Linked DNA regions of Homo sapiens: all the other regions are linked to region 1. Evidence: fine-mapped expression QTL. A gene starts in region 1. Each other region holds a variant in brackets. All regions are shown on one strand. Distances are from middle to middle. Region 1 holds the start of RNPEP (arginyl aminopeptidase). Region 2 holds the start of MIR6740 (microRNA 6740). Region 3 holds the start of ELF3 (E74 like ETS transcription factor 3).

Region 1 (10,569 bases):
AATTTTTGTATTTTTCTTAGAGACAGGGGTTCACCACGTTGGCCAGGCTGGTCTCAAAATCCTGAGTTTAAGCAATCCACCTGCCTCGGCCTCTCAAAGTGCTGGGATTATAGGCATCAGCCATTGCGCTCAGCCAATTTTTATTTTATTTGTTTTGAGACTGTATTATTAGACAGATAATACTCCAACATGTGAGCTAGAACATTAACAAGCAATTTATACCTAGGTATTTGTGAACTATACCTAGGTATTTGTGAATTATACCTAGGTATTTGTGAACTACTTACCATCCCAGGTTTCTGCCTCCTCGATTTGAAGTAATAATATCCTGTCTTACTCTTTCTTTTCCTTTTTTTTTTTTTCAGACAAAGTCTCACTCTGTTGCCCAGGCTGGAGTGCAGTGGCACAATCTCAGCTCACTGCAACCTCCGCCTCCCGGGTTCATGTGATTCTCCTGCCTCAGCCTCCTGAGTAGCTGGGATTACCGCCACCACACCGGGCTAATTTTTATATTTTTAGTAAAGATGGGGTTTCACCATGTTGGCCAGGCTGGTCTCAAACTCCTGATCTCAGGTGATCTGCCCACATCAGCTTCCCAAAGTGCTGGGATTACAGGTGTGAGCCACTGTGCCCGGCCAAGTTTTTTGCTTTTTTTTTTTAAACTACATATTTCCCCATTTATTGGCTTATGAGTTATATACTGTCTTCAATTTATATTACTTAAGTGGTTTCCTTTAAAACTTTAATACAGATACTTAAGATCTCACATTTATCCCTACTCTCCATCTGATAATACAAGGAGCTTAGAATGCTTTAACTTCCTGCAGCCAATTAAGCCGACTGAGTTCCTTTCCTCATGGGGGCCCAGTGTGCAATGGCTGTAAATAGCAGCTTCCTTGGTAGTGTATGCAGCCTGTTTGTTGTATGGGTTGCTCTAAGGGACCTTGGAGACAGTCCTTTCAGATGGATGTTCATGTTTCTGACCTTACACTACCCCAATGTAGGCTCCAAACTGGCATGCGAGGTGCCTTTGGAAAGCCCCAGGGCACTGTGGCCAGGGTTCACATTGGCCAAGTTATGTCCATCCACACCAAGCTGCAGAACAAGGAGCATGTGATTGAGGCCCTGCGCAGGGCCAAGTTCAAGTTTTCTGGCCGCCAGAAGATCCACATCTCAAAGAAATGGGGCTTCACCAAGTTCAATGCCAATTAATTTGAAGACATGGTGGCTGAGAAGCGGCTCATCCCAGATGGGTCAAGTACATTCCCAATCATGGCCCTCTGGACAAGTGGCGGGTCCTGCACTCATGAGGGCTTCCACTGTGCTGCCCCCTCTTAATACTCACCAATAAATTCTACTTTCTGTCCACCTAAAAAAAAAAATGCTTTAACTTCAGTTACCCCTCTCTCTTATGTACTTTTAGTCTGTTATTTTAGTTTTATCCTGATTCCCTCACATAAACATTATTAGTATATTATTAGTGTTGTTTTATACAGTTGTTTAAATTTATCTACTTTTTTTGCTCACTGTTCCTTTTTGCATCTCATTCTTTCCTTCAGTGATTCCTTTCCTTCTTGAAATAATTCCTGGCCTGGCACAGTGGCTCACGCCTGTAATCCCAGCACTTTGGGAGGCCGAGGCAGGCGGATCACCTGAGGTCAGGAATTCGAGACCAGCCTGGCCAACATGGTGAAACCCCGTCTCTACTTAAAATACAAAAATTAGCCAGGCATGGTGGCAGGCGCCTGTAATCCCAGCTACTCAGGAGGCTGGGGCAGGAGAATTGCTTGAACCCGGGAGGCGGGGGTTGCAGTGAGCTGAGATCGCACCATTGCACTCCAGCCTGGGGGACAAGAGCGAGACTTCATCTCAAAAAAAAAAAAAAAAAGAATTCCTTTAGAATTTCTTCGTTAGGAGTCTATGGATGGTAAATACTCTCAATTTTTATCTAAAAATCTGTTTTCCCTTACTTTTTAACAGTAGTTCATTTTTAATTTTATTTATTTTTATAAAGACAGGGTCTCCCTGTGTTGCCCAGGCTGGTCTGGAACTCCTTGGCTAAAGAGATCTTCCTGCCTCAGCCTCCTAAAGTGCTGGGATTATAGGCTTGAGCCACTGCACATGACCAAATAATAGTTTAGTTGGGTATACAATTCCAATTTGACAGTTGGCTTTTTTTTCTCAGTATTTTGAAGATAATGTCTCCAGCTTGTATGTTGCTAATGAGAGGTCTGCCCTTGGTCCAATTTCTTATTTTGAGACGGAGTTTTGCTCTTGTTGCCGAAGCTGGAGTGCAATGGCGTGATCTCGGCTCACCACAACCTCCGCCTCCCAGGTTCAAGTGATTCTCCTGCCTCAGCTTCCGGAGTACCTGGGATTAAAGGCATGCGCCACCATGCCTGGCTAATTTTGTATTTTCAGTAGAGACAGGGTTTCTCCATGTTGGTCAGGCTGGTCTCGAACTCCCAACCTCAGGTGATCCGCCCGCCTTGGCCTCCCAAAGTGCTGGGATTATAGGTGTGAGCCAACATACCTGGCACCTTGGTCCAATTTCTAATTGCCATTCTTTTGTAGATAATCTGTCTCTTTTCTTCCACTGCTGTAAGATCTTTATGTCTTGGTTTTCTTCAATTTAACTAAAACATGTCTATAGGTAGCTTTATTTTTATTTTTGCTAATAATTTATTGTAACTTTTTACTGTTTTTTTTTTTTTTTTTTGAGACAGGGTCTCACTCTGTCATGCAGGCTGGAGTGCAGTGGCGCAATGTTGGCTCACTCCAACCTCTGCCTCCTAGGCTCAAGCAATTCTCCTGCCTCAGCCTCCCGAGTAGCTGAGATTACAGGTGTGTGCCACTACTGCCCGGCTAATTTTTTGTATTTTTAGTAGAGATGGTGTTTCATAATGTTGGCCAGGCTGATCTTGAACTCCTGAGTTCAAATGATTCACCAGCCTCAGCCTCCCAAAGTGCTGGGATTACAGGCATAAGCCACTGCACTCGGCCCTGTAACTTTTAAATCTATAGAATCAGGAATGGAAAATTTGTGGCCATTATTTTGAAATGTCCAACATATGTTGCATTCTAAGCATTCACAAATAAATAATAAATAATGAAAATGAACTGGGGGAGAGGTGGGCTGTGCCCACAGTGTCCCCTTTCTACAATCCTGAATTCTCTGAATTCCTGAATCTCTCCACTGTAAGTTATTACAGGCCATCTACAGGCCAGTTCTGAGGCAAACTAGACAGTGTGGGAGCCATGCAGGGAGGCGGAAGTGGAAATGAGGTTCCTGGTATTCCCAGGAAGAAGTAAGGCTATAAGGGGAAATAATATAATTCCTAAAATCTTTTTTTTTTTTTTTTTTGAGACAGGGTCTTTCTCTGTTGCCCCAGCTGGAGTGCAGTGGTATGATCATGGTTCACTGCAGCCTTGACCTCCTGGGCCCAAGCAATACCCCTACCTCATCCTCTGAGTAGCCAGGACCACAGGTGTGCATCACCACACCCAGCTAATTTTTTAAAATGTTTTTGTAGAGAGGGGGTCTCCCTCTGTTGCGTAGCCTCATCTTGAACTCCTGGGCTCAAGCGATCCTCCTGCCTCAGCTTCCCAAAGTGTTGGGATTACAGGCGTGAGCCACCACACCCAGCCTAAAATCTTTTACCCTTTAGCTAAGGATGACATCCTCTTCCTCTGTCAATATTTAACTAGAAGGATCAGGCTAGGCATCTCTTCGTTGTGCTCCCCAGCATCCTTTTCTTCCCGTATCAAGCGCAGCACGTGGAAGTGTCGTGACCTGTTTTCTTGTGCGTCTGCTAAAATGTGAGTTAGGCTATGAACACCATAGGAAGAGGAATTGTGCCGGACTTATTCAAACTGTACCCCAGGCACTTAGCTTAACAACTGGTGTCTAGCAGATACTCAGCAAAAGTGCATTGCATCGAAGACTGAATAATTTCAAGATAGGAGTATTCAACGTCTAATATGTACCAAGCGCTGTTCTCAATGCTACAGAAAAGCAGGTTTCTAAGGTTTCTGGAGTTAAACAAAAAACCCTGACATTGAACTTACATGGAATATTAAAGTCATTATCTACCATAAGCATTATTTCATGAAATAAAATAATTTCAACTCTACAAAACTAGGAAGCACAGAACGGAATACTATTTCCCTTAATGAAAAACTCCCTACATTGTTCTTTTTAAAAATCTCATTTCCTAGCTGAACGGTAAAAACATCATCATTGATTAGCTCCTATTCATAGAAGGCCCATTGCAACCCACTGGTACAGAAGAGAAACAAAGTATTCAGCGGAGAATACCCTAGCTCAATAAGCGGTACAATACAGTAAGGGAAATAGAAGTGACATGCGATGGACAGCCAGGCCTTAAATTGCGCGGTGCTGATTCCTGTCCCTTAACCCAACAATAGAAAGATAGGCGTGCCTGGAGTTGCTGGGGGACGAGGCTCGATCCAGTGTGAATTCCGTGAAGTTGTGCAGGGTTTCACTGTTTGCTGAGTGTGTTAGACAGGTTACCTGGTAGAGTTCTCACATTACTTCGTGAGATACACAGATATTATGACTCTATTATACTGGTGCAGAAAAAGGCTCGGGAAGATTCATGTTTCTTGTGCGACTTGCCCAAGGTGACACACAGTTCTAACAACTGGCCTATCGCAGGGTGTGAGATCTGGAACTCAGACCTTCCCAGCCAGGGCTCAGTCCACGCCACTGCCTAGATGAGGCAGCAGGAAGGGTCAGCAGAGAAGGGTGCCCCACCGGGACGACTGGAACACCTCAGTAGGATATGGGTGGGCAAACGTGGGCCACACGATCCCACCGGCCTCTTTTGTCCTAAGTCCCGAGGCACGGGTGCAGCTAGAAGAGTGGGCGGTAAAGCGCAGGGAGGGGATGCGGTCGGGAGCAGATTTCGGGGGCGGGGCCCGCGCGGCGGGGGCGGGCCCGCGGCGCTCGGGGCGGGGCTCCCCTCGGGTTCGCGGCCCGGCCGGTGAGCAACGGCTCTGCGGCCATGGCGAGCGGCGAGCATTCCCCCGGCAGCGGCGCGGCCCGGCGGCCGCTGCACTCCGCGCAGGCTGTGGACGTGGCCTCGGCCTCCAACTTCCGGGCCTTTGAGCTGCTGCACTTGCACCTGGACCTGCGGGCTGAGTTCGGGCCTCCAGGGCCCGGCGCAGGGAGCCGGGGGCTGAGCGGCACCGCGGTCCTGGACCTGCGCTGCCTGGAGCCCGAGGGCGCCGCCGAGCTGCGGCTGGACTCGCACCCGTGCCTGGAGGTGACGGCGGCGGCGCTGCGGCGGGAGCGGCCCGGCTCGGAGGAGCCGCCTGCGGAGCCCGTGAGCTTCTACACGCAGCCCTTCTCGCACTATGGCCAGGCCCTGTGCGTGTCCTTCCCGCAGCCCTGCCGCGCCGCCGAGCGCCTCCAGGTGCTGCTCACCTACCGCGTCGGGGAGGGACCCGGGGTGAGTGCGCCCCAGACTGCGCCCGCCGCTGCCTGCCTGCCCTTCCGGCCCCCAGCCGCCCTGCACCCTCACCTACCCCACCCGGGAGGAGGGACAGGGAGGACCCTTCCAGAGCGTCCCTAGAGGGGCCTACTCCCCGCGCGCCGCCTCTAGGCCTCCTCCCCTTGCTTCCTCTTTTCCTCCCGGGCTGCCTGGTTTCCTTCTGGACTTCCTCCAGCCACTGGGCGGTGCATCCTTCACCCTTTCCGTCCTTCCGCGTCTCCTCCCTGGCCCTGGAGGCTTGTCCAGATTGCGCCGCATTCCCGCTCATCGCACACTGCCGTTTCTAACATTTTCCGTGGCTTTCTAGATGACCTGTTGTTCATGCACTTCACTTAGTGCCCTCTTGGACTTTTGGGCCGAGGTACCTGATTATCAGCCACCTTATCTCTGCTTTATGGTGGCTCTAGAATTAGCCAGATGTTGATCTAGCTCTTTGTTCTGTGTTGCCTTCTAGTTCCACGGTTAAAGCTCTTATCTTTGTTTTTGTTTCCTCCTGTGAAGTCCTGGATTTGATTAACGAAAGAATTTGAGTAAAAGTGAGAACTGGAATTAGGGTGCTATAAGCATTATAATAATTTGGCCTTCTCACTGTTGGTTAACTCTTTAATTTTTTTTCGGGACGGGGCAAATATTGGAAATAAGAGGATGGAGTTATGTGGCTTATGTCTGTAAGAGTCAGAAAATCCTTCCTGGAGAGTCCTTAGGCTGTGGCTGCCAGTTATCTCTCAGGTAGAGTTGGTTGCAAGTTTCATAGTAAACTGCTTGCTTACAGTTTAATCTTTTATTTATTTATTTGAGGCAGAGTCTCACTCTCGTCCAGGCTGGAGTGCAGTGGCAAGATCTCGGCTCACTGCAACCTCTGCGTCGTGGGTTCGAGCGATTCTCGTACCTCACCCTCCCTAGTAGCTGGGACTACAGGCGTGCGCCACCACACCCGGCTAATTTTTGTATTGTTTAGTAGAGACAAAATTTCACCATTTTGGTCAGGCTGGTCTCGAACTCCTGACCTCGTGATCCGCCTGCCTCGGCGGCCTCCCAAAGTGCTGGGATTACAGGCGTGAGCCACTGCGCCCGGCCCACAGCTTGGTTTTATACATTAGGGAGACATGATACATCAGTCAGTATATGTAAGAAGTACATTGGTTGGGTCTGAAAAGGTGGGACAACTTGCAGCAAAGGCAGGAAGACTTGAAGCGGCTTCCGGATCACAGATAGGTGATACACAAATGGTTACATTCTTTTGAGTTTCTGATGAGCCTTTCCAAAGGAAGCAAATCAGATATGCATCCATCTCAGTGAGCAGAGTAGTGGCTTTGAATAGAATGGGAGGCAGGTGTGCCCTAAGCGGTTCCCAGGTTGAGTTTTCTTTAGTGATTTTGGGGGCCCAAGAGATTTTCCTTTCACAGCCTGATAACACCACTGCACTCCAGCCTGAGCAACAGAGTGCGACCCTGTTTTAACAACAACAACAAAAAAGCAAAGATGATGAGTAAGCAATTTTGGTGGAGGGGGGATGATGGCTAATATTTAATAAGATGAGCCAGGCACTAGTCTAAGTGCTTGACATAGGTTAAATGAGTTGTCTTTCCATAAGTGGTTAATATGGTGCGTGGTACATGGTAAGTAAGCTGTGTTAGCTCTTACTGCTAACTTTTGTATTTCTTTCTTTTTTTTTTTTTTTTTTTTTTTTTTTTTTTTTTTTGAGAAGGGATCAAAAAGCTCCCTACATTGTTCTTTTTAAAAATCTCGTTTCCAGGCTGGGTGTGGTGGCTCACATCTGTAATCCCAGCACTTTGGGAGGCCAGGGCTGGCAGATCACCTGAGGTCAGGAGTTTGAGACCAGCCTGGCCAACATGGTGAAACCCTACCTCCACTAAAAATACAAAAATTAGCTGGTTGTGGTGGCTCACACCTGTAAACCCAGCTACCTGGGAGCCTGAGGCAGGAGGATCGCTTGAATCTGGGACACAGAGGTTGCAGTGAGCTGAGATCATGCCATTGCATTCCAGCCTGGGTGACACAGCGAGGCTCCATCTAAAAAAAAAAAAAAAAAATACTCATTTCCTAGCTGATCAGTAAAAACATCACTGACTGATGGCATTCAATGATCAGTCAATTGATCAATTCTTATTGACTGGTATAGTGGCACCATCTCAGCTCACTGCAGCCTTGACCTCCCTGGCTCAAGTGATCCTCCCACCTTAGCCTCCTGAGTAGCTGGGGTAGCTGGGACCAACCACAGACCTGCCACCTCCACACTTGGCTAATTTTTGTTATTTTTTGTAGAGATGGGGTTTTGCCATGTTGCCCACGCTGGTCTTGAACTCCTGGGTTCAAGCCATCTGCCCGCTTTGGCATCCCAAAGTGCTGGGACTACAAGCATGAGCCAACATGCCTGGCTTAATTGAGCAGCCAGTTCAGAGAGTTCCCATATACAGTTCAGTACCTCCTACATACACATATACACACAGATTCCCCTCTTGCTACCATTTTGCATTAGTATGACACATTTGTTACAATTAAACAATGCTGATATATTATTAACCAAGATTGAATCATTTTACATTAGTATAATAATATATTTGTTATAATTAATAAACCAGTACCGATACTGGAGTCCATAGTTTTTTCAGATTCCCTTAGTTTTTACTTAATGTCTTTTTCTGTTCCAGGAAGCCATCCAGAATTCCACATTATATTTAGCTGTCATGTATCCTCTTGGGACTGTGACAGTTTCTCAAACTTTCCTTGTTTTTGATATAACTTTGACAGTTTGTTTGTTTTTTGAGACAGGGTCTTGCTCTGTCATCCAGGCCGTAGTGCAGTGAGTGGCACAATCATGGCTCACTGCAGCCTTGATCCCCCTGGTTCAAGTGATCCTCCTGCCTCAGCCCAAGTAGCTGGGACTACAGGCGCATACAACTGCGCCCAGCTAATTTTTTGAATTTATTATTTGTAGAGATGAGGTCTCACTGTGTTATCCAGGCTTGTCTCAAACGCTTGGGCTCAAACAAACAATTCTCCCATCTTGGCCTCCCAAAGAAAGTGCTAGAATTACAGGCATGAGCCACTGCTCCCAGCCAGTTTTTTGTTTTTTATTTTTTTATTTTTATTTTTTCTGTAGAGACAGGGTCCCCCTATGTTGCCCAGGCTGGTCTCAAACTCCTGGCCTCAAGCGATCCTCCTGCCTTGACCTCCCGAAGTGCTGGCATTACAGGTGTGAGCCACTGAGCCCAGCCAACCTTGACAGTTTTGAGGAGTGTTGGCCAGGTATAGCGTAGGATGACCCTGTATTGGAATTTATCTGATGTTTTCTCATGATTAGATTGGGATTATGGGTTTTGAGGGGCAATTCACAGAGGTAAAGTGCCATTTTCTTTCTTTTTTTTTTTTTTTTTTCTTGAAATGGAGTTTCACTCTTGTTACCCAGGCTGGACTGCAGTGGTGTGATCTCGGCTCACTGCAACCTCCGCCTCCCTGGTTCAAGCGATTCTCCTCCCTCAGCCTCCGAAGTAGCTGGGACTATAGGCATATGCCACCACCCTGGTTAATTTTTGTATTTTTAGTAGACACAGGGTTTCACTGTGTTGGCCAGGCTGGTCTTGAACTCCCGACCTCAGGTGATCCACCAGCCTCGGCCTCCCAAAGTGCTGGGATTACAGGTGTGAGCCACTGCGCCCAGCCAAAGTGCCATTTTCATCAGGTATTGAGGGCGCATAGTATCCACATGATTTATGACTGTCAGCGTTAACCTCGGTCCCCTGGCTGAAGCAGTGATTATCAGCTTTCTCCACTGTGAAGTTATTCTCTCATCCCTTTCTATACTGCACTGTACCTGTTATAAGGAGACTAATTAAATTTTTCACACACAAAAACTCAAACCCAGCATCCCAACGTAGCTTCCTTATGCCTCTTAAAATAGGTCTCAGACACTGCTGTGTTCAGAACCCTTCATTAGACTTGCCCAGGCCTGCCTCCCCAACTCTGCATCTGGAGCCTGCATCTGTTTATGCCTCTCCTCATGTTGCTGCTCGTCTCCTTGTGAATGTCTCCTCCCTTCCTTTCCAGCCATCTCAATCCTGCGTGTCTTTGAAGGTCCAGCCAGAAAGTTTTCTTCCCCTATGAAATCATCCTGGAGTAATCGAATCCATTTCTAAATTCTAAATGCTATTTGTTACTGACCTATGCTCCATCCTGCCCCTCTTCCAGGTAAATGAATGGCTGTTTGCTATAGGCAAAAACTGGGTTTTGTGATAAATCATTCAGATTTTACTTTTTTTTTTTTTTTTTTTTTTTTTTTGAGGCAGAGTCTCGCTCTGTCACCCAGGCTGGAGTGCAGTGGCATGATCTCAGCTCACTGCAACATCTGCCTCCTGGGTTCAAGCAATTCTCCTGCCTCAGCCTCCTGAGTAGCTAGAATTACAGGTGCATGCCATCACACCCGGCTAATTTTTGTATTTTTAGTAGCAACAGGGTTTTACCATGTTATCCAGGCAGGTCACGAACGCCTGACCTCAAGTGATCCACCTGCGTCGGACTCCCAAAGTGCTGGGATTACAGGCGTGAGCCACTGCACCCAACCCAGATTTGCCCTTTGTTTAAGAGCTAACAGAACACAGATAAAGAATCATATAACCAGTGCCTATTATATAAAATACCTTTCTTCTGAAAAGGTAAATTTTAGGAACAGAAAACACATATTAGGCCAGGTGCAGTGGCTCATGCCTGTAATCCCAGCACTTTGGGAAGCTGAGGCGGGCAGATCACCTGAGGTCAGGAGTTCAAGACCAGCCTGACCAACATGATGAAACCCCGTCTCTACTAAAAATACAAAATTAGTCGGATGTGGTGGTGCATGCCTATAATCCCAGCTACTTGGGAGGCTGAGGCAGGAGACTCGCTTGAACCCAGGAGGCGGAGACTGCAGTGAGCTGAGATCACACCATTGCACTCCAGCCTGGGCGACAAGAGTGAAACTCTATCTCGAAAAAAAAAAAAGAAAAGAAAAGAGAATGTATATTAGGCTGAGCATGATGGCTTATGCCTGTATTCC
Region 2 (8,749 bases), 21 kb after region 1:
GTAACTGTCAGAAAGGTGCGATTCCCCCAGTCCTCACTTAGGAGAGAGACCAACAGCCTGAGTTAACCAAGTCCTTTGTAGCCCACAGCAACAGGGAGCTAGGGACTGAGTCAGGCTCTCTGTAACTGTCCCTATTTGCCCTGGGTCCCCAGGAGGGTAATGTTATTAAGCTTCAGGTATCTGTCGCTGTTCTTCTTGAGGCCACAAGGAGGCAGCACAGTGTCTCTGTCAGGAAAATACACTTGGATGTGGTGACAGACGTTTTCCCGAGGCTTACGTTTGATTCTGCACCAGGCGCTGCGTACACCTGCTTGGAGGCTGCAACGGGGCGGGCTCTGCTGCGTCAGCACATGGACATCACTGGAGAGGAAAACCCACTCAACAAGCTCCGCGTGAAGATTGAACCAGGTCCAGGAGGCTCCTCTGTCTGACACCCACTCCCCTCAATTGAGCTTGGAGCCCCAAGTTAATGCGAACTTCATGTTGATCAGTGCACGCTTAGAATACTTTATTTGGAGGGAGGGGCACTCCAGAGCTCTTTGTAGCCAATTCTCTGGCCCCTGGGCTGACTGAACCCAAGCCATTGCAGCCAGATAGGAGTTCTGTCCAGTCTGTGCGGTTCGTGATGACTTCACCATTGCTTTGCATTTGCACAAGTCCATATCGTTTTACCAGGCTCTTTCGCATTCCTTCATGATCATCAGGGCAGATCTGTGGATTCTGTAGAATAAAAGCATTAGCCTTATTTTACAGAGGATGGGACTGAGTGCCAGACAAGTTAAGTGTCTTGTCCAGGTCATGTACCTAATCAGTGCATGACTGCAACTGAGATCCGGGTCCTCTCTCCAAATTCAGATCTTTTTACTTCCTAACATTTTCCTTCATTCCATGTGTGACTAATCTGAAACCTTTTTATGCAATTGAAGCTCATGTTCCTTGATGCCGTTAAGTTTGCAGATGAATTTCTTAGAGACGGGTAATTAGTTTTAGCCTGGAACAGCTGTAAAAACAACACATTGGCTGGGCATGGTGGTTCACGCCTGTAATCCCAGGTCAAAGCGGGTGGATCATGAGGTCAAGAGTTCGAGACCAGCCTAGCCAATATGGAGAACCCTGTCTCTACTAAAAATACAAAAATTAGCTGGGTGTGGTGATGCACACCTGTAATCCCAGCTACTGGGGAGGCTGAGGCAGGAGAATCGCTCGACCCCAGGAGGCAGAGGTTGCAGTGAGCTGAGATCGTGCCACTGCACTCCAGCCTGGGTGATAGAGCAAGACTCCGTCTTAAAAAAAAAAAAAAAAAAACATTGATCTGGGAGGGTAGGTTGAGTATTTAGGTGGTGACCAATAGGGATGGAAAAGACACAGCTTGGTGCTCAGTGGGAAATGCTGATGGAACCTACCCACACAAAGTGTATCCTGGGACTAAGGAAATGTGTCCGCTCCTCTGGAAGGCTGGTTTCTCTGTCTTCATATTAGATCCACAGTGAATGGCCCTCTGAGATCTTGGAAGTACCTTGAGAGAGGCCAATATCTGGAGAGAGATCTTGGCCTTGAGATAGAGATCTTAAGAGAGAGAGTCTTGGCCTTGAGAGAGTCCAAGATCTGGAGAGAGGCCAGGATCTGGACACCTTCTTGGCCTTGCTGTCCCTGGGGAAGCTGAATTCTGATCTCTTCCATCGCTAGTCTTTGACTGTGGAGCTAGAGAAGAACGTTACGGGTGACAGGCTACAAAAGCTCAAATCTTGTCTGCTTTCTCCTCTGCCAGGCGTTGACCCGGACGACACCTATAATGAGACCCCCTACGAGAAAGGTTTCTGCTTTGTTTCATACCTGGCCCACTTGGTGGGTGATCAGGATCAGTTTGACAGTTTTCTCAAGGTATAGTCACATGAGGGGAGAAGGAAGAGGAGCGGATAAAGCCACTGGGCCTGATCAAGGGTAGAGGCAGGGGGCGAAAGATGTAAGGGGTTGGAGGAGGACCCAGGACACAGAGGGACACCACTCCCCACGGGGCCAGAGAGGGTCTAAAGAGCTTTCCCTCCTCACAGGCCTATGTGCATGAATTCAAATTCCGAAGCATCTTAGCCGATGACTTTCTGGACTTCTACTTGGAATATTTCCCTGAGCTTAAGAAAAAGAGAGTGGATATCATTCCAGGTAAGCAGAGGAACTGGCCCACAGGCTTCTAAAAAATAGTAGAGAATGAGATCTCATTGACACTCGGAAAGATGGTGGTGGATGGGAAAACACTGGGTCAGAGTCAGCTAGGTAGGGGCGTTTTGGGAAGCAAACCCAGAATCCTGGGATTTATTCCACAAGAATGACTTCTTTTCACTCCTCTCTGCCTCATTTTCTCCCAGTCTGTTTCCTTACTCTCTCCTCTCACCTGGACACACAGTCAGACCCTTAACTTGCCTGGAGAGCTGCCACTGCTGCCGCACCACTGCCCCAAGCTAAAACTCACAGGGCAGGAGCGGAGGCAGCACCCCTCCTACAGCCTTCTGAGTGAAGGCAACCCCAGTGGCCCTCCTTATTTCTTTCTTTCTTTTCTTTTCTTTTTTTTTTTTTTTGAGATGGAGTTTCGCTCTTGTTGCCCAGGCTGGAGTGCAATGGCACGATCTCGGCTCACCGCAACCTCCGCCTGCCGGGTTCAAGCGATTCTCCTGCCTCAGCCTCCCGAGTAGCTGGGATTACAGGCACGCGCCACCACGCCCGGCTATTTTGTATTTTTAGTAGAGACGGGGTTTCTCCATGTTGGTCAGGCTGGTCTCGAACTCCTGACCTCAGGTGATCCACCTGCCTCGGCCTCCCAAAGTGCTGGGATTACAGGCGTGAGCCGCTGTGCCCAGCCGCCAGTTTCTGCCTGGGAGGTACCACTTCCAAAGAAAAAACGAAAAATGTCCTGTCATGGAAGACACAATCCATTAGACATACCCCCACTTCTTGCTGTGACCTGAACCTTGAGTCACTCTATTGTTGGTTTGATGAAGTCCGCGTCCTCTGACAGTAGGATTGGTCAGGACTTTAGCAGCACCTACTGTTCGGTTGGAGGCTTGCATTTTAATGCGGGGACTCCGGAGCTAATGGTAGTTAATAATTCCAGAGTACTTACTATGCATCAGGCGATACGCTAAGCTTTTAATGTTTATTTGCTCATGTAATCCTCATAACCATCACGGAGGCAGGGCCTATCACCCCCACTTTATAGATAAAACTGAGGTGCAGAGAGGTGAAGTAACATGCCCGTGGCCTCCCAGCTGGTTAATGACAGAGCAGGGGTAGGAACCCAGGCAGCCTGGTCCTAGAGCCTGGGTGCTTAAGTACAGTGTGGTTGTGATCGGTAGGAGAATGTGCACGTGAATAGAGCATCCACCAACTTGGCTCTGACAACACAGTGCTAATTTGGAGCGAAAAGCACTTTCACGGTCGAAACGGCACAGTCTCTAGATGTCGTTATAACTAGGACCCTGCTGGAGCGAATAGTTACATGGGAAAGTAATGTTAAATGCTGGGGAAAGAGTTTGGGATGGAGAGAGGAGAAACTTGAGGTCTCTGGGAGTTGCTTAAACCAGTTGACCGTAACCTGGCCAGAGAATTCTGATAGTGTCTTCTCTCCTCCCAAACAGGTTTTGAGTTTGATCGATGGCTGAATACCCCCGGCTGGCCCCCGTACCTCCCTGATCTCTCCCCTGGGGACTCACTCATGAAGCCTGCTGAAGAGCTAGCCCAACTGTGGGCAGCCGAGGAGCTGGACATGAAGGCCATTGAAGCCGTGGCCATCTCTCCCTGGAAGACCTACCAGCTGGTCTACTTCCTGGATAAGATCCTCCAGAAATCCCCTCTCCCTCCTGGTAAGAAAAAATGGTGAACCAGGGCTCCTTGTGTGCACAGCTTTATGTCAGGGGCTAGAGGGAGGCTCACAAAAAGTAGTGATGCTTGCCCCTAGGGAACTGCCACGTACACTAGGGAGGCTGGCACTCCACAAGGAATGTGCCACCGGGAGGTTATGGGTTAGGGGACTGCCACGTACACTAGGGAGGCTGGCACTCCACAAGGAATGTGCCATCGGGAGGTTATGGGTTCTACTTACAAGCACCTCAAGGACAAAGTCACAAAGCCTGGCATTGCTCAAGTCCGAAGCTCCTGCAGGCGACTCTTGTAAGGCTTTTGTGTCTATTAAGTCATTTAATTCCCACAACTCCTCTGGGAAGTAGGCGGTGTGATGTTAATACCCAGGTGACAGAATGAACTTGAGGTACAAACAGTTCGCACAGAACCCAGTCATCCAGAGCTCTCAACCTCTAATGCTTTGTGGCTGCTCAGTCAACATAATATTCACCAAGGGGTTAAAAAAAAGTTAGAGCCAAGATGACTTTTAGCAG[A/G]TGAGTGGTAGGAGAAAAAATGGGACAGATATTGGGGGAATATGTCTGCTTTAATCTTGCTCTGTCGACCAGGCTGGAGTGCCGTGGTGCTATTGGCTCACAGCAACCTCCACCTTCTGAGTTCAAGTGATTCTTGATTCTAGCACCTCAGCCTCCAAGTAGCTGGGATTACAGGCGTGCGCCACCACACCCGGCCAGTTTTGTTTGGTATTTTTAGTAGAGATGGGGTTTCGCCATATTGGCCAGGCTGGTCTCACATTCCTGACCTCAAGTGATCCGCCCACCTCAGCCTCCCAAAATTCTAGTATTACAGGTGTGACCCACCGTGACCAGCCACAAACCATTTCTTTCTCTTCTCCAGGGAATGTGAAAAAACTTGGAGACACATACCCAAGTATCTCAAATGCCCGGAATGCAGAGCTCCGGCTGCGATGGGGCCAAATCGTCCTTAAGAACGACCACCAGGAAGATTTCTGGAAAGTGAAGGAGTTCCTGCATAACCAGGTGGGTGACCCCTGCCTCGCTGTTCCCGAAAGCACACTGGGACCCACTCGGCCATATGTGAAGTAATCATGTGGGCAGGGCTCATCTAGGACTCATCTGAGGCACAGAGGGAGGGGCAAATGACCTGAGGACCCTACCACTCAGCCTCTTTACTAGTGTGGCTTTGAAGGCATTGCCCTAGGGACAAGAGGAGGCCTGCAGGCTTGCAGTGCTTTCTGCAATTCAGCTGGTGAGACCCCAGGGAAAAAAGCTGGCCAGAGCCAACGCAGAGGCGGGAAAGAGGGTGACAGTGTCATGTGGGAAACACAAGAGGGAAAGGGGCCAGAGGCGGAGCAAGAGGAACAAAGGCTTGGAGGATAGGTCCCTGCTGCCCTGTGACTTGGGCATGATCGGGACAGCAGCCAGACCCTCTGTCACTATGTGAAAGTTGCCCTGTTGGGGAAAGGCCCCGGGCTCTCAGGATGAACTGAATGTCATCAGATTCCGGAGCAGGGAGGGGCTGGACCGGAGACGAAGCATTGCTCTGCATAAAGTCAGGGCTGCCTGCCTGTTCGGGGATATTCTGAGCCCTTTGATGGCTTCCTCAAGGCTCTGGATTTTAGGAACTTGTGATGTCGCTGGCTTATATTTGTGTGAATTTGACCTGTGGGTTGACCTGTGGGTTTTCCTTTGCTTGACTGCAGCTGGACCGTATGCGGCTGTGAGCTTTATGTGCCGCAGCTGCTGATATCTGCTATTCACGTGGTGGCTCACCACCTACACCTTTCCAGAAGTCTGGAATCCCATTGTGTCCACCCAACTCATTCATTTTGTTGACTGTAGACGTCCCCATGTTAGTATGGATTGGGACGCGTATTGAGATCCATCTCCATGGATCTCTGGCGCCCAAGAAGATGCCTGAATTAGAGCACTTCTGATGAGAAGCTCCTCATTCCAGCTGTGATGCCCACATCCCTTTTAGCACCTAGCCATGGCTGCTGTTAGACTGGCACTGGGGGCAGCAGGGCTGGACAGATCCACCAGGCAAGCTTCTTAGGCATGTGTATGTGTGTTTCTTGCAGGGGAAGCAGAAGTATACACTTCCGCTGTACCACGCAATGATGGGTGGCAGTGAGGTGGCCCAGACCCTCGCCAAGGAGACTTTTGCATCCACCGCCTCCCAGCTCCACAGCAATGTTGTCAACTATGTCCAGCAGATCGTGGCACCCAAGGGCAGTTAGAGGCTCGTGTGCATGGCCCCTGCCTCTTCAGGCTCTCCAGGCTTTCAGAATAATTGTTTGTTCCCAAATTCCTGTTCCCTGATCAACTTCCTGGAGTTTATATCCCCTCAGGATAATCTATTCTCTAGCTTAGGTATCTGTGACTCTTGGGCCTCTGCTCTGGTGGGAACTTACTTCTCTATAGCCCACTGAGCCCCGAGACAGAGAACCTGCCCACAGCTCTCCCCGCTACAGGCTGCAGGCACTGCAGGGCAGCGGGTATTCTCCTCCCCACCTAAGTCTCTGGGAAGAAGTGGAGAGGACTGATGCTCTTCTTTTTTCTCTTTCTGTCCTTTTTCTTGCTGATTTTATGCAAAGGGCTGGCATTCTGATTGTTCTTTTTTCAGGTTTAATCCTTATTTTAATAAAGTTTTCAAGCAAAAATTAAGTTACGGATTGAGTGACTATTAAATTTCTTCCACCAGAGGTCCTCACTGTGTTTGTTCAGGAAAGGTCACTGGGGGAGGCCCAGAGAATGACAGTATTTTCCTGTCCTCAGGGAACAGCCAGGGTGAAGGAGGTGGGTGTCCTACACATGCATATGAAAAAAAATATGGCAAAATGGCACAGCTGGTGCAGGAAAATGAAAAAGGAATAGCATTCCAGTTCTCCGTGAAGCAGCTGAATTCTCTATCTGCAGCAGCATTCCCATTATCTTTTCCATCACTAAGAAAAAAAAATGGGCTGGGCACGGTGGCTCATGCCTGTAATCCCAGCACTTTGGGAGGCTGAGGCGAGAGGATCGCTTGAGCCCAGGAGTTTGAGACCACCCTGGCCAACATAGCAGGACTTCATCTCTACCAAAAAAAAAAAAAAAAAAAAAAAAAAGCCAGGCGTGGTGGCTCACGCCTGTAATCTCAACACTTTGGGAGGCTGAGGCAGGCAAATCACTTGAGGTCAGAAGTTTGAGACCAGCATGGCCAACATGGTGAAACCCCATCTCTACTGAAAAAAAAGATAGATGCAAAAATTAGCCAGGCATGGTGGCTCACACCTGTAGTTCCAGTTACTTGGGAGGCTGAAGCAGGAGAAACACTTGAACCTGGGAGGTGGAGGTTGCAGTAAACTGAGATCATGCCACTGCACTCCAGCCTGGGTGACAGAGTAAGACTTCTCAAAAAAAAAAAAAAAAAGCTGGGCGTGGTGGTGCATTCCTGTGGTTTCAGCTACTCAGGAGGCTGAGGCAGGAGGATCACTTGAGCCCAAGAGGTCAAGGCCACAGTGAGTCTTGATTGTGCCACTGAACTCCAGCCTGAGTGACAGAGTGAGACCCTGTCTCAAAAATAAAAATAAAGTGTCTTATGACTTTTTATCTACCCTTCTGCCCATGCCCAAGGCTTCACTGGGCCTCACCTGTCTTTGATCCTAGATAACTATTTGAATGGTAATCAGTAAAGTCTTTAGAACTTAGCACTAAATTCTGATTTCCTGGCCTCAACATGGGGACCTAAACAGTTAGCAATCTGGGTTTGGGAGTGGGATGAGGGGAGGGTTGGAAGAAATATTTAGTGTGTTTCATTTGCCTTTCTTAAATACAGGGCACCCCTGAAACAGGCTTTGTTCGCAGCTCTGCTCTGTCCTCGGATTTAGGTTATCGAACAGGCTTCCTCCCTCCCCTGCACAAGGGTTGGGAATGAGTCGATTTGCTTTCACTCAGCAAGAGCAAGGGACTAGTGGTGACCAAGTGGTAGACTGGAGAGGCCTCTGCCCCGTGGCACACAGCTCCACCATCAGAGAGGGTGATGTGGGTCATAGGTGAGGGATCTGGAGGCCCGGTATCGGAAGAGCTTCTCCAGGCACTGGCATTTTGACAGCAAACTGCTTCCGTGGCTCTTTCAGGACTGTTCCTGGCAATATGTTATTGGCAAGGACTATTTTAGGGCTATCCAGTTGTCTCCCCCTCTCCCCAACCTTTTATCTAGCTTATCAGTAGCTATCTTTCCTTGCTCTGTACAAAAACCTATAGCACCAATAGGCCCAGTAATCATGAAGGGTCAGTGCAAGGAAAGGCTGGAAGCCCTTCCTCTAACAGCCGTGCTGTGACTCCACTAACTTTGTGGGGTCTCCCATTACATAGCGTGGGTATCCTGAGCTGTGCAGCCTGCCTCACTCACCACCTTGGTACCTGACAGGACTACTGGATGTGCCTGTCCTTTTGTAGGACATTCTCCCATCCCAAAGATGAGGCTGTGCTGCCGTGTGGGCAAGCTCTGTGGGGAGAGGGGAGGCCAGTGGGTTGTTTTTGCCATCACAGAATACTGGGAAGCCCCTGGCATCCTGCTCCATAGCTCTCTTCACCACTATCCTGGAACCTTCTCCCCACCCCCATCCCCATGCCTCCAAGGCACTGACCTCAAATCCAAGTCTTTCTCACTTATCTCAAGCTGCCAGCCTGTAGGGATTCCTTATCTCAGCTCCATGTCAGCGGTGAGGAAGCCCCAAGAAGGCAAGGGAGCTGACAGCCTTCTCATTTTTCTCGTACATCCTCCTGTTCACCCCGCCATCCCGGGAGCCCCAGCCAGATGCTCTTCAGGGCAGGGAGCACGTGAGCAGCCCTGGGGCTAGAAGCCGGTTCTCCCACATTCCTGGGTGAGGGACTGG
Region 3 (10,569 bases), 32 kb after region 1:
AAGCCCGAAGACATTGAATCCTGTGCAGGGAAAGAGCGAGGGTTTTGTGTACAACACACCTGCATACCTGGATGTGAATCTCAGCTCCACCCCTTCACCAACTCTGTGTGGCCTGGGCAAGCCATTCTAAGGGAACCCTCCACACTGCAACTTTCATGTCTATAAAATGGGAATAACCATGCATTCCTTACAGGACTTTTTTGGTGTGAGGATTAAATGAGAGAATATGTTGAAAAGTGCTTGGTAAATATATTAATACTATGCATTCCCTCTTCTTTGAATGACGTGACCCAGGTAGTCAGGCTTCTGACCACTAGAGGGCAGCAGAAGGTACTGGAAAACTGGGCCGAGTGAACCAGAGATTAGATGGGGTCCAGAGAGCAGGGATGAACTTACCCGTGTGGATTCTGGCAACTCCGGCAGGGAGGGCTCCAGCAGGCGCTGAGGGAAGAACTTTCAAGCAGAGCCGGGTCTCTTCAGGAGCGACTGCAGCAACCCTGATGCTTGGATGGAGTCCAGGCAGGTGATGGTAGTGAAGACCTTGCCAACAGAGTGGGCGCTGGAGAAGGAGCCCTTTAGTGGGGACCCTGGGGCCACGACTAGGCTGGCAGGCCCAGCCAGCACCAATTAATCCATGAGTATTGCCCAGCATTGAGCCTGGAGCACCTTCCAGCCCCTGGCCAGAGTCCTGGGTGTTCTGGGAAAAACCCCTAAACCTAGTAACTCCTCTCCCTACTAGGCCTCTTTGTTGCTGAATCTCTGGAATTTAGGGGCCAGCAGCTTTCTGACTCAGGTCAGCCAGGGGTTCATGTTCCCTCACTTGCCCTCCCCCTGCCTGGCCCATCTCTGGCCTGGCCCCTGGGAGGAATTTCCTGGGCCAGAGGGCAGCCGAAAGCACAGATGCCCACCCCAGCAACGTTCCCGCCACCTGCCCAGGCCAGTGCCCCGTGCCCAACCCCAGAGGGTGCGGGATGACAGACTCTGACAATCATTAAACCAGCCGGGCCTGATTTCCCAGCACTGCCTGCTAAGATCCGGGCCAAGTGGCACTGAATATGCAAATCACCTGGGGCCAGGAGCCCAGTCTAAAGGCCAGGAAATCCCCTCCATCCAATGAGACACCAGCTCAGGTTACTGCAGGGGACACACTATAAAGCCCTGAGCTCAGGGAGGAGCTCCCTCCAGGCTCTATTTAGAGCCGGGTAGGGGAGCGCAGCGGCCAGATACCTCAGCGCTACCTGGCGGAACTGGATTTCTCTCCCGCCTGCCGGCCTGCCTGCCACAGCCGGACTCCGCCACTCCGGTAGGATTCCCCGCCTGTCATTCCCTAGCCCAGCTCTTGGGAAACTGCAGAGGGGTCCAGAGGATTTGCAGTTCTGAACCTGCACACTCCAGTCTAGGATCTCCGAGCAAGAGCGTAGGTGTCCTGAGGGTCAAAGAACAGAGAGAGATTGTCTCTGGGAAGGCAGAATGGCCATGACGCCGCTAGTCTGGCTCCAGGGCCCCAGAGATCTGAGGAGGGAAGCCCAGCTGGAGGCTCCTGTGGTCCTGCCCTGGTCTGAGATCTTGGAGCCCTTCTTGAAGAGACGGTGTCCGCAGAGTTGCTGATCTTCCTGCCCCTGGGGGCTACTCTTGCCCAGGGTTGGGCAAAGCAGAGTAGCTGGGAGTGTAAGGAGAGGACCCTCGTCCCCTCACCAACCTCATCCTCTCTCCCCCTACCCACAGGTAGCCTCATGGCTGCAACCTGTGAGATTAGCAACATTTTTAGCAACTACTTCAGTGCGATGTACAGCTCGGAGGACTCCACCCTGGCCTCTGTTCCCCCTGCTGCCACCTTTGGGGCCGATGACTTGGTACTGACCCTGAGCAACCCCCAGATGTCATTGGAGGGTACAGGTGGGTCTCAGCGGGGTGGGATGGGGCACGGAGTGGGAGACAGATCCATCTAAGGGCCTGTTAGACAAATGGGGGAATAGGCAGGGAGGAGGGTCTCTAGGCAAATTCCAGGGCTAGAGGCTGAGACTTAGTGACTGAGGTGCTGGGGGTTGTGGGGCTGTGACAGGCAGAGGGAGGTGTCAGATACCAGGACAAGGGTGTTGTGAATGCTACCTCCTGCCCCTACTCTTGGGATGGCTCCAAGGGCTGAGGTGTGAATCCCCAGTGTGCTCCAGGAATGGGGCTGTGTGGGCTGGGAGTGGTGGCTCACGCCTGTAATCCCAGCACTTTGGGAGGCTGAGCTGAGCGGATCACCTGAGGTCAAGAGTTCGAGACCAGCCTAGCCAACATGGTGAAACCCCGTCTCTACTAAAAATACAAAAAAAAATTTATCCCAGCGTGGTGGTGGGCACCTATAATCCCAGCTACTGGGGAGGCTGACGCAGGAGTATCGCTTGAACCTGGGAGGTGGAGGTTGCTGTGAGCCGAGATTGTGCCATTGCACCCCAGCCTAGGTGACAGGAGTGAGACTCCATCTCAAAAAAAAAAAAAAAAATGGGGCTGTAAGGTCTGCTGGGTGGCCTGAGCTGAGCCTGTTTCCCTGCCTGGCCCTTGCAGAGAAGGCCAGCTGGTTGGGGGAACAGCCCCAGTTCTGGTCGAAGACGCAGGTTCTGGACTGGATCAGCTACCAAGTGGAGAAGAACAAGTACGACGCAAGCGCCATTGACTTCTCACGATGTGACATGGATGGCGCCACCCTCTGCAATTGTGCCCTTGAGGAGCTGCGTCTGGTCTTTGGGCCTCTGGGGGACCAACTCCATGCCCAGCTGCGAGACCTCAGTGAGTCCAGGCCCCTGGAGGCTGGGGAGCAGCTCCACATGTTGAGCTGAGTCGAGTTCAGTGTGGCCGTAGGCAGGCCCTGGAGCTCTGGGCCAGCTGCACAGCCAGAGAGAGCCCTTGAGGGAGGGATTAGGGGAGTGTGACCCTTCCTTCCTTCCTTGTCAGCTTCCAGCTCTTCTGATGAGCTCAGTTGGATCATTGAGCTGCTGGAGAAGGATGGCATGGCCTTCCAGGAGGCCCTAGACCCAGGGCCCTTTGGTGAGAACCCGTTTTCTCCTTCCTTCCCCAGCCTGTCTTGTCCCATCCCTGCCCCTCCACAGAGTGCTAGAGATGACCCCCTCCCCAGACTTCTTCCTCCCTCAATTAGAAAAATTGCAGCAGGTCATCAGACCCATGGGCAGCATCACCTGTCCTGGTCTGGTCCCCTGAGCCCTCTCTGAGTTCTCACCTCCTCTTCCCAGACCAGGGCAGCCCCTTTGCCCAGGAGCTGCTGGACGACGGTCAGCAAGCCAGCCCCTACCACCCCGGCAGCTGTGGCGCAGGAGCCCCCTCCCC[T/C]GGCAGCTCTGACGTCTCCACCGCAGGTGAGAGCTCTCTCTGGGCCACAACCTCCCTTCCCCGAAGTGTCCCTTGTTCCCTCTGGCTCCCAGCACCATAACTCAGGCCTTCTGGCAGGAACAGGAACAGGCTGGGAAGTGTGTCCTGAGAGCCAGCAGCGTGGTTGAGCAGAGGGTGGGCCGGCAGGGGACTTACTCTGACCCCGCCCCCCAGGGACTGGTGCTTCTCGGAGCTCCCACTCCTCAGACTCCGGTGGAAGTGACGTGGACCTGGATCCCACTGATGGCAAGCTCTTCCCCAGCGGTGAGTCGAGGGAGGTCCCCAAGAGGGCGTCCCATTTAGCAATGCACAGGGGGCCCGGCTCTTCCTGCAGCCTTTTCCTGTAGAGGGGCTACTCTCCCTAACTCCCCTCTTGCCCCTCCTTGACCTTCCACCACCGTCCCCACAGATGGTTTTCGTGACTGCAAGAAGGGGGATCCCAAGCACGGGAAGCGGAAACGAGGCCGGCCCCGAAAGCTGAGCAAAGAGTACTGGGACTGTCTCGAGGGCAAGAAGAGCAAGCACGGTGAGCTCCGGGGGCACGTGGGTCCTCCCTGCGCCGGGCTGAGCGGCTTCCTGGGGCACTGCGGGTTGTTGCAGGTATCCCTTCTCCCGTTTTCTCTGGCCTCCGCATGGCCTTTGGTAAGGCTGTGCACAAGCTGGGGGCTCTATGGTATCGGTCACCACCTAATTGCAGAGCCTGGCTTGGTGGTCCTGGAGAGGAGGAGGAAATAAGGCTCCCAGTGGGAGGCTCATGGTACCAGAGTCCTGTCCACTGACTCCAGTGTCCTGTCCACTGACTCCAGTTCTCTCTGCACTTGGCCACTGTCCTGCCCTCTGGGACACCCTCAATGTGAGGAGGCAGCTGGTGGGTCTTAGGTGGGCTGAGGAGAAAAGCAGTCACTGCAGTACCCGCACAGAGGGCACTGCGGGGTCTCTGGAGAGGCTTGCTGCATGCTGTGGCCAAGTCAGCAGTGCACTGGGGCGGGCAGGGCTGGCTGGCCTTGGGTGAGAGGGGACACCTGGATGGCAAACTGATGGAGGCTGGCCTTGCAGCGCCCAGAGGCACCCACCTGTGGGAGTTCATCCGGGACATCCTCATCCACCCGGAGCTCAACGAGGGCCTCATGAAGTGGGAGAATCGGCATGAAGGCGTCTTCAAGTTCCTGCGCTCCGAGGCTGTGGCCCAACTATGGGGCCAAAAGAAAAAGAACAGCAACATGACCTACGAGAAGCTGAGCCGGGCCATGAGGTGAGCTGGCGGCCAGGACCCTCACGATACAGCCGGACATGGGGACAGGCGCTCACACTCCCACCGCCCTCTTTCTGGCTGCCACTTGGCTTCTTGCAACAGGGCTGAGTCCTTAGAGTGAGGACAACATCTGGGTTGGTCTACTTCATGGATTAAATGACAACATGGAGAAAGTATTAGCCTGGCAGACAGCAGACACAGTGCACTTGAGCTAGCAGCAACATTTCTTGTATCGCCTGTGAGGCTTGTCCTCAGGAAGGCACCTGGAGAGTGGGAAAGGGGGCAGGAGCCGTGCCCACCCAGGGCCTGGCTTTCTCCTCGTTGAAGCACTTAGGTTGTTTTTCTCTGGGCCTCAGTTTCCTCCTGTGTCCAGGAGTACACTAGATCATCTTAAGATCCCGTCCAGCCCTAAAATCATGTACTTACTTTTTTTTTCTTTTTCTTTTTTAAATAGAGGCAAGGGTCTCTACGTTGGCCAGGCCGGTCTCAAACTCCTGGCCTCAAATGACTCTCCTGCCTCGGCCTCTCAAAGTGCTGGGATTACAGGTGTGAGCCAGTATGCTTGGCCTTTTCTTTTTTCTTCTTCTTCTTTTTATTTTTCGAGACAGGGTCTCGCTCTGTCACCCAGGCTAGAGTGCAGTGGCACAATCTTGGCTCGCTACAACCTCTGCCTGCCGGGTTCAAGTGATTCTTGTGCCTCAGCCTCCAAGTAGCTGGGATTACAGGCACCTGCCACCATGCCCAGCTAATTTTTGTATTTTTAGTAGAGACGGGGGTTTCACCATGTTGGCTAGGCTGGTCTCGAACTCCTGACCTCAAGTGATCCGCCCGCCTCAGCCTCCCAAAGTGCTGGAATTACAGGTGTGAGCCACCGTGCCCAGCTCCCTGGCCTTAAAAGTCATGTAATTTAATGATCAGACCCCAGTCACAGCCATAGGATACAAAGAAGCAAAGGCAAAGAGCCCTGTGTCCTGGGCACGGTTACAGGCCAGTGTAGGGAAAGAGCTTCTGCTTGCCAGTGTGAAGAACAGAGGAGTTTAGGAAGTGTGAGTCAGGCTCAGCTTAGTCAGGCAGAGACCAGTGGGCATGGGTTACCTGGGGGTAACGCGGGCCAGGTGGGCGGGCTGGCAGCCTGGGGCCCATTTCCTGCCAAAGCACCTCTGACCATCCTTCTCTTCACCCAGGTACTACTACAAACGGGAGATCCTGGAACGGGTGGATGGCCGGCGACTCGTCTACAAGTTTGGCAAAAACTCAAGCGGCTGGAAGGAGGAAGAGGTTCTCCAGAGTCGGAACTGAGGGTTGGAACTATACCCGGGACCAAACTCACGGACCACTCGAGGCCTGCAAACCTTCCTGGGAGGACAGGCAGGCCAGATGGCCCCTCCACTGGGGAATGCTCCCAGCTGTGCTGTGGAGAGAAGCTGATGTTTTGGTGTATTGTCAGCCATCGTCCTGGGACTCGGAGACTATGGCCTCGCCTCCCCACCCTCCTCTTGGAATTACAAGCCCTGGGGTTTGAAGCTGACTTTATAGCTGCAAGTGTATCTCCTTTTATCTGGTGCCTCCTCAAACCCAGTCTCAGACACTAAATGCAGACAACACCTTCCTCCTGCAGACACCTGGACTGAGCCAAGGAGGCCTGGGGAGGCCCTAGGGGAGCACCGTGATGGAGAGGACAGAGCAGGGGCTCCAGCACCTTCTTTCTGGACTGGCGTTCACCTCCCTGCTCAGTGCTTGGGCTCCACGGGCAGGGGTCAGAGCACTCCCTAATTTATGTGCTATATAAATATGTCAGATGTACATAGAGATCTATTTTTTCTAAAACATTCCCCTCCCCACTCCTCTCCCACAGAGTGCTGGACTGTTCCAGGCCCTCCAGTGGGCTGATGCTGGGACCCTTAGGATGGGGCTCCCAGCTCCTTTCTCCTGTGAATGGAGGCAGAGACCTCCAATAAAGTGCCTTCTGGGCTTTTTCTAACCTTTGTCTTAGCTACCTGTGTACTGAAATTTGGGCCTTTGGATCGAATATGGTCAAGAGGTTGGAGGGGAGGAAAATGAAGGTCTACCAGGCTGAGGGTGAGGGCAAAGGCTGACGAAGAGGGGAGTTACAGATTTCCTGTAGCAGGTGTGGGCTTACAGACACATGGACTGGGCTGGGAGGCGAGCAAAGGAAGCAGCTGAGACTGTTGGAGAACGCTTACAAGACTTCATGCAAGCAAGGACATGAACTCAGAACACTGAGGTCAGAAGCATCCTGCTGTCATGACACCGCTCGAGTGACCTTGACCTTGACCAAGTCTGTCCTGTTTAGGACTGATTTTTCCTATTAGGCTAGGGTTTGGACCTGATGTTCTCAAGATGTCTAGAATTGCATGGCTGGCCTTGTGGAATAGATGGTTTTGCATTCCAGCCAAGTGTGCTGTAAACTGTATATCTGTAATATGAATCCCAGCTTTTGAGTCTGACAAAATCAGAGTTAGGATCTTGTAAAGGAAAAAAAAAAAAAAACAAAACAAAATGGAGATGAGTACTTGCTGAGAAAGAATGAGGGAAGGAGTTGGCATTTGTTGAAAGTGTAGTCTTTTTCTCTTTTTTTTTTAATTGCAACTTTTACTTTAGATTTAGGAGGTCGTGCGCAGGTTTGTTACATGGGTATATTGTGTGATGCTGAGCTTGGGATGCGAATGATCCTGTCACCCAGGTAGTGAGTATAGCACCCAGTGAAACTGTAGTCTCATGCCAGGCACTGTGCTAGCCCACTCTGGCTCATTTAATCCTCTCCTAAGAAGAGAGGAGACACAGCGTCCCCATTTGACAGATGCAGAAAGAGGTTCCACAGGTGTGCCTTGATTCTGTCCTAAAACCGTTTCCCGGAAGCTTTTCCTGGTGTGGGCGCTTCTAACCTAATCCTCAATCGATTCCAGAACTATTACTCTGTTTCCACAGTGATACTGTGTCTAGGTTTTAGGGAGGACAGTTCATTGATGTTACTTAAGAATGCTTTCCAGGTGGAAAGTTCCTTAAGTTTGAGGCTTCAAATTCCATACAGCACATTAAAATCCCATTCATGAGTTTGAAATACTGCTCTGTTGTCTTGGAAATACCAATCAGATTGTTGGCTGAAGTGATGTGGATAAAGAAGGGATCTTAGAAAAACTAAAGCTTGTGTGTGGATTTCTGGAAATGCAGCTTGCTCTGGAGAAGCAAGGAATGGTGGAAAAGGAGAGTGGGGAAGTTGATTGGAGAGGAAAGTGAGGTCATGAGAGAAACCAGAATCCTGGAGCCATTTGGAAAAAGGCTTTTACTTACATTTCCCTTCTGAAGTGTGAGCCAGTTAGACAAAGGGGATGCGGGCCAGGGCGTAGGTCTAGCCTCAGAAGCTGGGGAAGCTTTCACAGCTACTTAGTCTAAAAATGACCCCATTTCTTGGAAATTATGCATTAGACTCTGGTCTAGTTTCCCTAGCCACAATATCTCGGGGTCCTTGCACCCTTAAAAGAGGTGACCCAGCTGGGCGCGGTAGTTCACGCCTGTAATCCTCGTACTTTGGGAAGCCAAGGCGGGAGGATCACGAGGTCAGAAGATCGAGGCCATCATGGCCAACACGGTGAAACCCCGTCTCTACTAAACATACAAAAATTAGCTGGGCATGCTGGCACGCGCCTGTAGTCCGAGCTACTCAGGAGGCTGAGGCAGGAGAATCACTTGAACCCAGGAGGCGGAGGTTGCAGTGAGCTAAGATCATGCCACTGCACTCCAGCCTGGTGACACAGGGAGACTCTGTCTCAAAAAAAAGAAGAGAGGTGACCCAGTGTGGCCTGAAGTCACCTAGCCAAGAAGTGGGGGAGGGGCCTCTAGAGCCCGGGACATGCTTGTTCAGCCTCCCTTGACTCCCAGCCTCTTCAGCTTCTAAAGGAGATCCTAGCAGGGAGGAGGGCTGGGAATATGGCGCTCAGCCCCTTCACCCTCTTCTGGAGGGCTGGGGGCAGGTGCTGCCCGCTGCGTGCTGACCTTTGCCCTGCCATTTGCAGTTTATGAGGCGCTTTCCTCATCCCATTATCTCATTTGATCCGCCCCACAGCTCGCTGAGGAGACCAGGTGTCCCCATTTTACTGACAAGGCTAGTGGTGGGCTGAAGTCACTGACTGGGTGAGAGCGGGGCCAGCTCACAGCATGCCTGCCTCCACGCTGCAGCTCAGTGAGACCACCTGGGCAGGTGGCCTCTGCAGGGCAGCGCCTGGGACAGCCTGGAAGACGGCAGCTCTGGGAGGGACGCCTTTCTCCCCAACAGTTCTCTGCCCTCTCACCCCTCAGGATGCTGCAGAGTCCTGGCACGGGCCCCTGGGCTGGCCTCCGTGCTGCCCTCTCTGTCGGGCACCAGTCACCCTTACCCCGACTCTCACCAGCCCAGGGGCCTCCTAGCAGGAGACGGCCCGGTCTCTCGCCCACCAGAGTCTGCATCCCCTCAGGTGTGTCCTGGGCTGGGGAGTGGGGGTGGGGAGGAAGCCACAGGGCCGGGCTGTTTATATCCCGCCCTGCCGGAGCTGCTGGTCACCTCTTATCTGCTTCTGTGGGATTGGGTGTGTCGCTGAGCAGGTCAGAGGGAGGTCACCCCTCCCGTCGTGTTTGGGTGTGCCTGAGGAGGGGCTGGGGTTGGCCCCCTGGGACAGTTCCTGGCTTATCCCACAGCCCCACCTGTCCCACCAATTCTGGGGAAGTCTGGCTTCTCCTGGGGGAAGTGGGTGAAGGGGTTGCATTTCTGAGGAGTCTGGTTTCAATCTGCTCTCTCTCTCTGCTGTTGTCTGTTTACACATCTCTCTCTCTCGCCGGGCTGTGAGCACCTCTGGGCAAGTGCTGGGGCTTACTCACCTCAGCACCTTGCACAGCGCCTGGCACAGAGGAGGTGCTCGATAAATATTTGCTAAATGGCCCCGTGACTCTCCCTGCCCTGGCCACTACCTCCCCCACACACCACACACATTCATACACACTCATGGGAACCAAAGTCACACACACTCACACTCACAAAGATAAATATTCACAAGCCCTCACTCACATGCCCCTGCACGCACTGCAGACGCTGCCTGCTCTCACACACTCGCATGGACCGTATTCACAACCTCACACACTTGCACACACCAGCGCACGCAACACACTCCCACCTCACAGTCTCACATAGCCACACCCAGGCCTGCCTGCACGACTCACCTCCTCCCTCGGGGTCCTTCTATGAAGCATTTCCTGACCTCCTCTTTGGCCCTTTTCCCCCACCAGATGGGTTCAGCCCTTGCCTCCAGTCAGGACAGGCCTGGTAATTTGCAGAGCCCAGTGCAAAGTGAAAGCCTGGGCCCTTGTTAAAGAATTATTAGGCTGGGCGCAGTGGCTCATGCCAGTAATCCCACACTTTGGGAGGCCGAGGCGGGTGGATCGCCTGAGGTCAGGAGTTTGAGACCAGCCTGACCAACATGGCGAAACCCCATCTCTACTAAAAATACAAAATTAGCTGGGCGTGGTGGTGTGCGCCTGTAATCCTAGCTACTCTGGAGGTTGAGGCAGAAGAATCGCTTGAACCTGGGAGGCGGAGGTTGCCGTGAACCAAGATCATGACACTGCACTCCCGCCTGGGCAACAAGAGAGAAACTCCATCTCAAAAAAAAAAAAAAAAAAGAACGATTAAAAATTTCAAAATGGCAACAGCAGAGAAGAGCATGAACCATGCGCGAGGTGCAGTCCTCCAAGCGCAGGGCCCTGTGGGACCACCGCACAGGTTGCACTCAGGAAGCCACCCCTGCCTCCATTTGCCACTGGCCTATAAGAGCTCCACTGAACTACCCACCATGCCTTCTACTACAGATATGTTTGCCACAGTCACAAAAAAATCAACAAGTTGTCAAGTTTTTTGCTTTTTGTTTTTGAGACGGAGTCATGCTCTGTCCCCCAGGCTG

The links. PIP is the estimated chance that this variant, and not a neighbour inherited with it, causes the effect.
Region 2: its variant is fine-mapped to the expression of RNPEP in whole blood (INTERVAL, PIP 0.94).
Region 3: its variant is fine-mapped to the expression of RNPEP in anterior cingulate cortex (GTEx, PIP above 0.99).

The regions. Positions count from the first base shown.
Region 1 is chr1:201,977,640-201,988,208 of GRCh38, forward strand. It overlaps RNPEP (arginyl aminopeptidase), which reads left to right and starts at 5,009. Exons shown (of 11, transcript NM_020216.4): 1 at 5,009-5,474. The coding sequence starts at 5,028. It overlaps SNORA70H (small nucleolar RNA, H/ACA box 70H), which reads left to right and starts at 822; the gene lies at 822-956. It also overlaps the pseudogene RPL10P4. RefSeq lists an enhancer at 4,645-4,704 and silencers at 4,915-5,594, 8,311-8,485.
Region 2 is chr1:201,999,608-202,008,356 of GRCh38, forward strand. It overlaps RNPEP (arginyl aminopeptidase), which reads left to right. Exons shown (of 11, transcript NM_020216.4): 6 at 295-408; 7 at 1,769-1,881; 8 at 2,052-2,160; 9 at 3,630-3,854; 10 at 4,747-4,889; 11 at 5,951-6,536. The coding sequence ends at 6,109. It overlaps ELF3-AS1 (ELF3 antisense RNA 1), which reads right to left. Exons shown (of 2, transcript NR_146472.1): 2 at 444-720. It overlaps MIR6740 (microRNA 6740), which reads left to right and starts at 3,517; the gene lies at 3,517-3,629. RefSeq lists enhancers at 4,725-5,367, 8,578-8,749. The variant A/G (reference allele first, on the strand shown) is at 4,386.
Region 3 is chr1:202,009,404-202,019,972 of GRCh38, forward strand. ELF3 (E74 like ETS transcription factor 3) reads left to right here and starts at 1,184. Exons shown (of 9, transcript NM_004433.5): 1 at 1,184-1,303; 2 at 1,726-1,896; 3 at 2,554-2,775; 4 at 2,941-3,033; 5 at 3,237-3,356; 6 at 3,544-3,633; 7 at 3,779-3,895; 8 at 4,426-4,621; 9 at 5,806-7,780. The coding sequence starts at 1,734. The coding sequence ends at 5,920. It overlaps ELF3-AS1 (ELF3 antisense RNA 1), which reads right to left and starts at 950. Exons shown (of 2, transcript NR_146472.1): 1 at 397-950. RefSeq lists enhancers at 1,150-2,083, 2,084-3,018, 3,828-5,027, 8,530-9,298. The variant T/C (reference allele first, on the strand shown) is at 3,331.